Regions from separate parts of the Homo sapiens genome. Here regions 1 and 2 are each linked to region 3. Evidence: fine-mapped expression QTL. A gene starts in region 3. Each other region holds a variant in brackets. All regions are shown on one strand. Distances are between the middles of the regions. Region 1 has its middle 57 kb from the start of LINC02092. Region 2 overlaps LINC00469 (long intergenic non-protein coding RNA 469). Region 3 holds the start of LINC00469 (long intergenic non-protein coding RNA 469).

Region 1 (2,762 bases), 99 kb after region 3:
AAGCCTAATCTCCTAGCACTTTTGCTGTATTCAGTTCATTAGAAGCAACTCAGTGGGTCTGGCTCACACTGGAGGAGAGAGGATGACACAAGGACATGAATCTCAGGAGGGTGCTTCTTTGGAGGCCATATCAGAAGCTGCCTTCCACAGTGGGTATCTACATGTCTAGCTCTTGCTGCTTCACAGTAGAAGTGATGGAGTTCTCTAGGATCCCACAGTGGAGTGACAAGAGAGATAAGTAAACCACAATTGTGTACTGAGCGTATATGTTACGGTACAGCAGGCCACAAAGAATGTGGGCATCATTGACTATATTCTATGGGAATGCACAGGATGGTTCCTAACCCAAACATGCAGGGAAGGCTTCCTGGAGGAAGTGATGGGCAGGGACTTCCTCTGTCCTAGGACCTGCCATAACCCTGATAACTCCATGAATATGGCAATAACCTGGGGCTGCCTTCATAGGAACTGCTTCTGGATTGGGGAACCTGAAGGGCCAATTAGAGATGACTACAGAACTCCTAGACAGGAAGAAGTGAGAACAGAGAAACAGAGGGAGGGAAGAGAAAAGAATGGCCTCTTCAGTGACCTACAAACATCTTGCAAATGCTATGGGACATGGTGAAGAGATGGAAATTTTAGAGCGCACCCTTCATGCAGTGTATTAGCCAGGGTAGACCAGCTGCTATAACAAACATCTCCCAAATGTACTATGGTTTAACACTATACAGGTTTAATTTCTTGCAGTAATAGCCTAAAGTGAGCTAGCTGGGATGTTCCACTCCTCCCAGTCTTTTGGGGACAAGGCACCTCCTTTCTAGTATCTCGGTAGTCTTCTAGGGCTGGAGAGTCCTCCACTGCATCAACTGCATCTGGGTGGGCTACCAGAGAAGGCAGAGAGAGCCTTTTAGGGCCCAGCCCTGGAAATTGCAGCAACCCTTCTGCCCAGATTCCATGGGTCAGAGTTCAGTCTCCTGGACCCACCTAACTGGGGGAGGGTAGGGAGGCACAGAAATGCAGACCAAAGCGGAAGAGACCAGGCATATCTGTGAAACATTCCCTGGCTTCTGCCCCATGCAGGTGTCATATAATAGACGAATGGTCAGGGATGGAGCTGGGCCCTTCCCAGCCTAGGTCCTCCTTCCCCCTGCTGCCCACCCCTTCTGCCCCCACCATGAAATGTTCTTTCCCAGTGCCTCCCCCAGATTTCTCTGGCCATCTTCCCCCAAGTCTATAGGCAAATTCTTGGGTTCCTGAATGGCCCTCTCTCATGTGATGTCTTCTCGAGCACCTCTTACTCGCCTCATGAAATCTTCTTTGCAGGCAAAGAGTTTGTCTCACTGTCCCACAAGCAGAATACATCAAACACTGGTCTTGAAGTGCAAAACCCAACTTCAAGTCTAGCCACTGCACTTTTCTTTAGACTTCTAGGTCTTGGTTTATTAAATGGGTGATAGGAAGGGGACGGGGAGATTTGAGCTAAGTGATCTCTAACATCCTTCCAGTGCGTCTCACATGAACTAACTCAAGCCTTGATTTTCACCAGATGTTCTCACTCATGCAGCTGTTTTCTGGGGCTGCAGTGCCCTTCCCCACCCAAATCACACACTTTTGAGTTTCCACACATCT[G/A]TCACTTGCCCATCCACCACCTACACCCCCATGCCCCTGCCACCAAAGAGAGAAGCCGCCATTCAGGGAAAGCTGGGGTTGGGTCATTCTCTGCACATGACTACACTGTCAGACACTAAACCAACACTGCTCAATAGAATTTTCTGTGATAAGGGAATTGTTCAGTAATCAGTGCTGCCCAATATACCAGCCACAAACCACGTGTGACTACTGAGCACTTGAAATGCGACTTGTGTGACCGAAGCACTGAAATGTGTCACTGTACTTCATCTCCATTACTATACCTTTGACCTTAATAGCCACACATGGCCCATGGCTGCCATATTGGGCAGCACAGTGCTAGAAATGAAGTCTAGAGCTTCGCCCGCTGACTTGTGTCAGAGGCTCTTTCTCTTAGTTGTTGGAACTCCAGTAGAAGCTCAGTATGATGGGGGTAACTGAAACCTTCCCTGGGGTCGATAACTAACACTGTGCTTCTCAAGCATTTCAGTGCATGTAAGTCATCTTATTAAAAAATACAAAAAGAATTAGCCAGATGTGATGGTGCACACCTGTAATCCCAGCTACTCAGGATGCTGAGGCAGGAGAATCCCTTGAACCCAAGAATTGGAGGTTGTGGTGAGCTGAGATTGCACCACTGTACTCCAGCCTGGGTGACAGAGTGATACATCTCAAAAAAAAATTAAATTAAGAAAAGAAAAAGGCAGACTCTGGCCAGGCCTGATGGCTTGCGCCTGTAATCCCAGAACTTTGGGAAGCTGAGGATGGAGGATCGCTTGAGGCCAGGAGTTTGACACCAGCCTGGGCAACATGGTGAGACCCTGTCTCTACTAAAAATCCAAAAAATTAGCTGGGCATGGTGGCATGCACCTGTAGTCTCAGCTACTCAGGAGGCTGAGGCAGGAGAATCGCTTGAGCCCAGGACGTGGACGTTGCAGTGAGCCGAGATCACGCTGCTGCACTCCAGCCTAGGCGACAGAGCCAGACCCTATCTCATAATAATTTTTTGAAAAAGCAGGTATCTGATACCCTAAATCTGGGGTCGGTCTGAGGTTCTGCATTTCCTACAGGGTTTCCAGGTGGTGACAGTTCTGCTGGCCCATGGACCCCACTTTCAGCAGCAGGGCACTGCA
Region 2 (2,762 bases), 51 kb after region 3:
GTACTGTGTAAGCATGTAGGTACCATAGTGAGCAAAACACAGATTTCTGTCCTCATGGAGCTTGTATTCTAGCAATTCTGGTTGGGGGAGACAGTAAATAGCAACCAAAAGAAATAAGTAAATTATGTAGTAAGAAGGGATACATACAATGAAATACAAGCAAAAGCACAGGAGAGGAGAAAGACTGGGAGTGTAGGATGGAGGTGAGAAGCCAGTGGCATGTTTGTCTTTCTTTTCTTTTCTTTTCTTTTTGAGACAGAGTCTCGCTCTATCACCCAGGCTGGAGTGCAGTGGTGCCATCCCAGTTCACTGCAACCTCTGCCTCCCGGGCCCAAGCGATTCTGCTGCCTCAACCTCCCAAGTAGCTGGGACTACAGGCATGTGCCACCAAGCCCAGCTAATATTTGTATTTTTAGTAGAGACGAGGTTTCACCATGTTGGCCAGGATGGTCTCGAACTCCTGACCTCGAGTGATCCACCCACCTTGGCCTCCCAAAGTGCTGGGATTACAGGCATGAGCCACCACGCCTGGCCCTGGCCAGCATGTTTAAATAGGGTGCCTGATGTCAGCTCATTTGATTTATTCCTTTGGTAGTCGCTTATTTCACATTCATTCTGGCTATAAGTCCTTTACAAATATTAAATCATTGAATCCTCATTATAACAGTATGAATTAATGTGATTATTTCCCCATTTTACAGAGAAGAAAACTGAGGTAGGGAGAGGTGAAATACCATTTGCAGTGTCAGGTGGTCAGTAAATGTCAGCAAAGGCCCTTGAGGCCAGGCAGTGGGGCTCCAGTCTGTGCTCTTATCCTCTGCACAATGCTGCCTTATGCCTTGAAATAAGAATCTCAAGGCAGTAATGGAGTCAGCCATCAGCCATGCAGGTCTCTGTGGGACAAGCCTTCCAGGCAGAAGGAACAGCCAGTGCAAAGGTCCCGAGGCAGGGGACTGCCTGGGTTATTTGATCATAGGGCAAGGCAGCCAGTGGGGCTGCTGTGGGGTGGGTAGGGCGGGCAGCTGGGGAAGGGGTGGTCAGAGCGGTCACTCAGGCCACATTGCAAGGGGCCCTGAGGCCATGGCGAAGACCCAATTCTCGTTCTGGGAAAAGGAGGAG[G/T]TCTGAACGGTTTGAGCTGTGAGTGGCTCACCCTGGCTGCCATGCTGAGCATGGGCTGCCAGGGTCAGGATGGGGCAGGAGTCCCAGCTGGAGCCGGAGAAAAGCACTTGAAATGGGGAAGAATGATGTGGGATTCTGGGCAGTTTGAAGCAGAGCCGGCAGCATTTCCCAATGGATGGAATGTGGAGTGTGGGAGAAAGAGATGCATCTGTCCTGGCTCATAGATGTGTGGCCCGAAGAACAAACTGGAAGGACAGGGTTGCTCTATGCCGAGATGTGGGAAGAGTCTGTTTGCTTTCTGAGTGTGGCAGCTCCCTCTGAGGATGAAATCACAGCATAACACATTGGAATGGCAATAACTGCCTTGAGACAGAGGTGTTATATCCAAGAAAAAGCGCTTTCAGAGGAGGCTGTGGTTGAAATAATAATGATTGTTTTGATGCATTCCGTATCCAACTGATGGAAAGCACACTTAGCAAGTCAAGAAAAACATGAAAGAATCCAAAGGGCTCCAGGCCAAGACCCAAGTTGACATCCTAAAGCCGCCTGGGAAGTTGAGAGGAAATCGTCTCCCTGCCCCTCCTGGGAGTTGGGGCAAATGGCACCATGAGGACCCTAGCCTCCACCGGGGCGTCTTGGGCCACATCTCGCTCCAGCAGTCAAGCCTCCGAGCTGCCGATGTACGGATGTGGTAAGGATTGCCGATGACTTTTTCATCGCTTTTACGGCAACTCTCACTGCATCCGCCATTCTTTGCAAGGAGAATGTGAATGAACTTCAGATTGAACTACAGACAGAAGAAATTCTTCCTGCCAAAGACACTTAAAACCCCTCCCGTCGGCACCGAGCCCCAAGAATTCTGATTGTGGCAGAGAAAAAACAGCCAGCAAAGATAATACCAAATAGTATAAAAATAGAGTGGGCTTAAGGCAGAGAGACAGAGAGCTGTAGTGTCTCACGCTCACTACAAACATTTACAGAGCATGCAGCTGGGAGGCAAGACCAGCCAAGGAGATACCAACGCCACGAAGCTCTGGGCGAAAGAATCTTGCTAATACTGACATCCATTTCTTCGGGCCTTCATTTGATGAATATTGAGGTGTACAAAGCTCACAAAGGTGTCACGTCCAACATGTCTCTGATGGCGCTGATAGACCGAAGGGGACTGTTTTCAACAATTTGAGCCAAGGTGCTGATGTCCGGCGTGTGAAACCTGGGTAAGCAACCATCTCCAACACAGGCATCTCCATGGGCAGGGCATAAGCCACGCTGCCCAGGACCACCTGTCCCCGCTCCCTGCCTTCACGATCATTCTGTTTTTACCCCTGGGGTTAGGGATCGGAGGAAGGCTGCAGTTTCCTAGCGACCATCTGTCCCTCATCCTTACTATTCCCTGTTTCTGCTTGTGAGGGTGACGTGGGTTTGCGCCTGGGAAGGGCATCTTGTAAGGCTTTCTGTTTGTCAATCTGTGAACAAATATCTATATCCAGTTTACTTCAGGCCAGGCCTGTGCTAAGCGCTGTCATGTAATAGGCTCTCAATAAATATTTGTGAGGCTTCAGGGATATAAACCTTATGAGCCTACCTGGACAGAAAGCCAGGTCCCTTCTCCAAAAACTTCCAGACATTTTCCCTCGAAGCAA
Region 3 (2,762 bases):
TTGAAGGATTTTACAAGAAAGATGAAACATGATTTGAAGTTCATTTTTGAAAGATCGCATCAGCTGCTCTGTGAAGAGGAGTTTTGAAAGAGGCAAGAGAGGAGGCAGGACAGCCACTGTGGCCTGCAGGTCCTCAAACGATTACACAGAGTTACCGTGTGACCCACAGTTCCACTCCTCTGTATAGACCCACGAGAAACGAAAACATATATTCATACAGAAACCTGTACAAAATGTTTAAAGCAGCATTATTTGTAATAGCCCAAAGATAGAAACGACATAAATGTCCACCAATGAATCCATACAATGAGGTAGTTATTTGGCCATAGAAAGGAATGAAGTGCCGATAGGACAGCATGAATGAACCCGGGAACCATCACGATAAGTGAAGGAAGCCATTCACAAAAGACCACGGATTGTATGATTCCATTTAGACAAAATGCCCAGAAGAGGCAAATCTCTAGAGACAGAAAGTAGATTACTAGTTGCCTAGGGCTGTAAGGGTGAGCGTTGGGGAGGGGAGATAGCTGAAGGGTCAGAGCTTCTTTTTGAGGTGATACAAATGCTGTAAAATGGACCACGGTGACGATTGCAGCTACATGGAATATACTAGCAACCATTGAATTGTATACTTTTTTTTTTTAAGTGAAAGCAAGCTTATTAGAGAAGTAAAGAAACAAAAGCATGGCCACTCCATAGGCAGAGTAGCCTGAATTGTCCACTTTAAATGGGAGAATTACATAATATATGAATTACATTTCAATAACGCTGTTTAAAAGAAAAAAAAAAGAGTGAAATCTCAGAGGAGGCCACTGAGCACTCTGGTGGAAGAAAATGGTGACTTAGGCCAGGGTCATAGAAGTAGAGACAGCAAGAAGGGATGAAAACAGTGGATTGTGGAGGCCGAATAGACAACCGATGAATAGGTCAACACCTGCTGTCCATCTGTACGAGGGAATATTATTCAGCCATAAAAAGAAATGAAATGAACCTTGCTGCAACATGATGTTAGGTGAAATAAGCCAGACACAAAGGCCCCATATGGAATGATGTCACTTACACGAGGTTTCTACAATAGGCAAATTCATAGAGACAGAAAGAATGGAGGTTACCAGGAACTGGGAGGAGAAAAGAATGGGACATTATTATCTCACAGTTCCAGAATTTGTTTGGGATGATTTAAAAAAAAAAAAAAAAGCTCTGGAAATAGATCATCAGGATGGTTGCACAATGTTTTGAATGTAAATGCCACTGAATTGTACACCTTAAAAGGGCTCAAATGGTAAATATTATGCTATGTATATTTTACCATGATGAAAATAAACGTACAAAAGTGAGACAGCAGTGAGTCTAGGCCTCCCTTTTAAGAAGCGATGGCATCAAAGAGAGCAGAGGAAGAGAGATGGAAGTTAGGAAGGGGTTTTTCAAAGAGCAGATTCACGGGAAACGATTCATTCGTGCAGGAGAGAAAGGATGAAGGAGGAGCGGGGTCCCTTGAATGTCCACAGGCAGAAGACGAGGGCAGAAGGGGAGGAGGTTGTCTTTGTGGCGGACAGAGGAGCTGTGAATAGGGAGGGAAACAAGGGTGTGCCTTCCGTTTACTCAGCACAGGAAGAAGCAAGGCGAGGAAGAACAGGCTCCTTTTTGAAATGCAAAAGCCTGTTCTTATCTAAACACTCTTGCATAAGACAAACAAGAGCGCTACCCAGTTGGTGACTTGGGACAGGAATGCCTGCCACCCTCTTAAACGTTCTCTCCCCTCCCCTAGCCTAGACTGAAGACCTCGGCCTCCAGCTTCTCTCCCAGACCCTTTCTTGGCTGGATGAGGTCACTCACCCCTTTTGAAAGCTCCACAGGCATTTCTGGACCAAGTTCCCTCACTCTTTTAAATGGTTCTGTAATTGCTTCATTCGCATAAACCTGCCCTCCTGGGCATCTGAACAGCCCCAGGGCAGGGCCTGACTGCAGAGCCAGCTTCCTTACGCCAAGGCCCTCGTGCCTGCGTCCCTCCTCGCCTTCAGCCATGAGGTTGCCTGGCCAGCGGTGGGGGTCGCCTGGATCGTGGGGATGTTCCCCCCACCCACCTGGCCCCACCAGTGAAGGGCCCCAGCTGACACCATCTCTCTTGTTTCCTGTTTTCCTGGGTCAGACCCAGCTGGAGGTCTGCAAATTCTGAAGCAGTTCTCAACCCTGGGTGCACATTTTAATCATTTTTTACAAAATACGAATGCCTGATGTCCAGCCCTGACACTGGTCTGCTTGGTCTGGGGGTGAGGCCCTGGAACGGATGTGTTTAGATTTCCCATGAGACTCTGATGTGCAGCCAGGGTACCAACCTCTGCTCTAAAGCAGGTGAGATTGCCCTGGGGACTTCATTAGAATCAGTGCCCAATTCCTCCACCCCCGCAGAGATTTCGCTTCTGGAAGTCCAGAGTCGAGGTCCAAGAATCTGTGCATTTTAACAATACAGCCCCCAGGGGAGCTTGATGAAGGTCCCTTGGGAAGTTCAGGGCATGGTGCAGGGGACACTGTCTCTCTCTCCTTCCCTCTCATCTGCATCAGCTCCCCAGGCAGGTGGCACTTTCTCTGGACAGGTCTGGAGTCAGGGCTGCAAGGCTGGTTTATGCCTGGAGGTCGGGGGATGATGTGAGGTGTGCATAGAGAGAAGCCCCTGTGAGGAACGGGGACCACTCCTGCTCACCCACATCAGTGACAGCCCAGCCTGGGGCTGGCCCTGGAAGGCCAAAGAGTGAACAGGTCTG

What was found. PIP is the estimated chance that this variant, and not a neighbour inherited with it, causes the effect. A credible set is the group of variants that fine-mapping cannot tell apart.
Region 1: its variant is the best candidate, but not a certain one, in a credible set for the expression of LINC00469 in whole blood (INTERVAL, PIP 0.73).
Region 2: its variant is the best candidate, but not a certain one, in a credible set for the expression of LINC00469 in lung (TOPMed, PIP 0.82).

Annotation. Positions count from the first base shown.
Region 1 is chr17:73,728,361-73,731,122 of GRCh38, reverse strand. No RefSeq gene overlaps it. Among named protein-coding and RNA genes, the nearest start is that of LINC02092, 57 kb to the left of the region's middle. The variant G/A (reference allele first, on the strand shown) is at 1,630.
Region 2 is chr17:73,775,772-73,778,533 of GRCh38, reverse strand. All of the region lies in intron 2 of LINC00469 (long intergenic non-protein coding RNA 469), which reads left to right. Among named protein-coding and RNA genes, the nearest start is that of LINC02092, 9.7 kb to the left of the region's middle. The variant G/T (reference allele first, on the strand shown) is at 1,120.
Region 3 is chr17:73,826,968-73,829,729 of GRCh38, reverse strand. LINC00469 (long intergenic non-protein coding RNA 469) reads left to right here and starts at 1,193. Exons shown (of 4, transcript NR_027146.1): 1 at 1,193-1,282. RefSeq lists enhancers at 1-356, 1,347-1,856.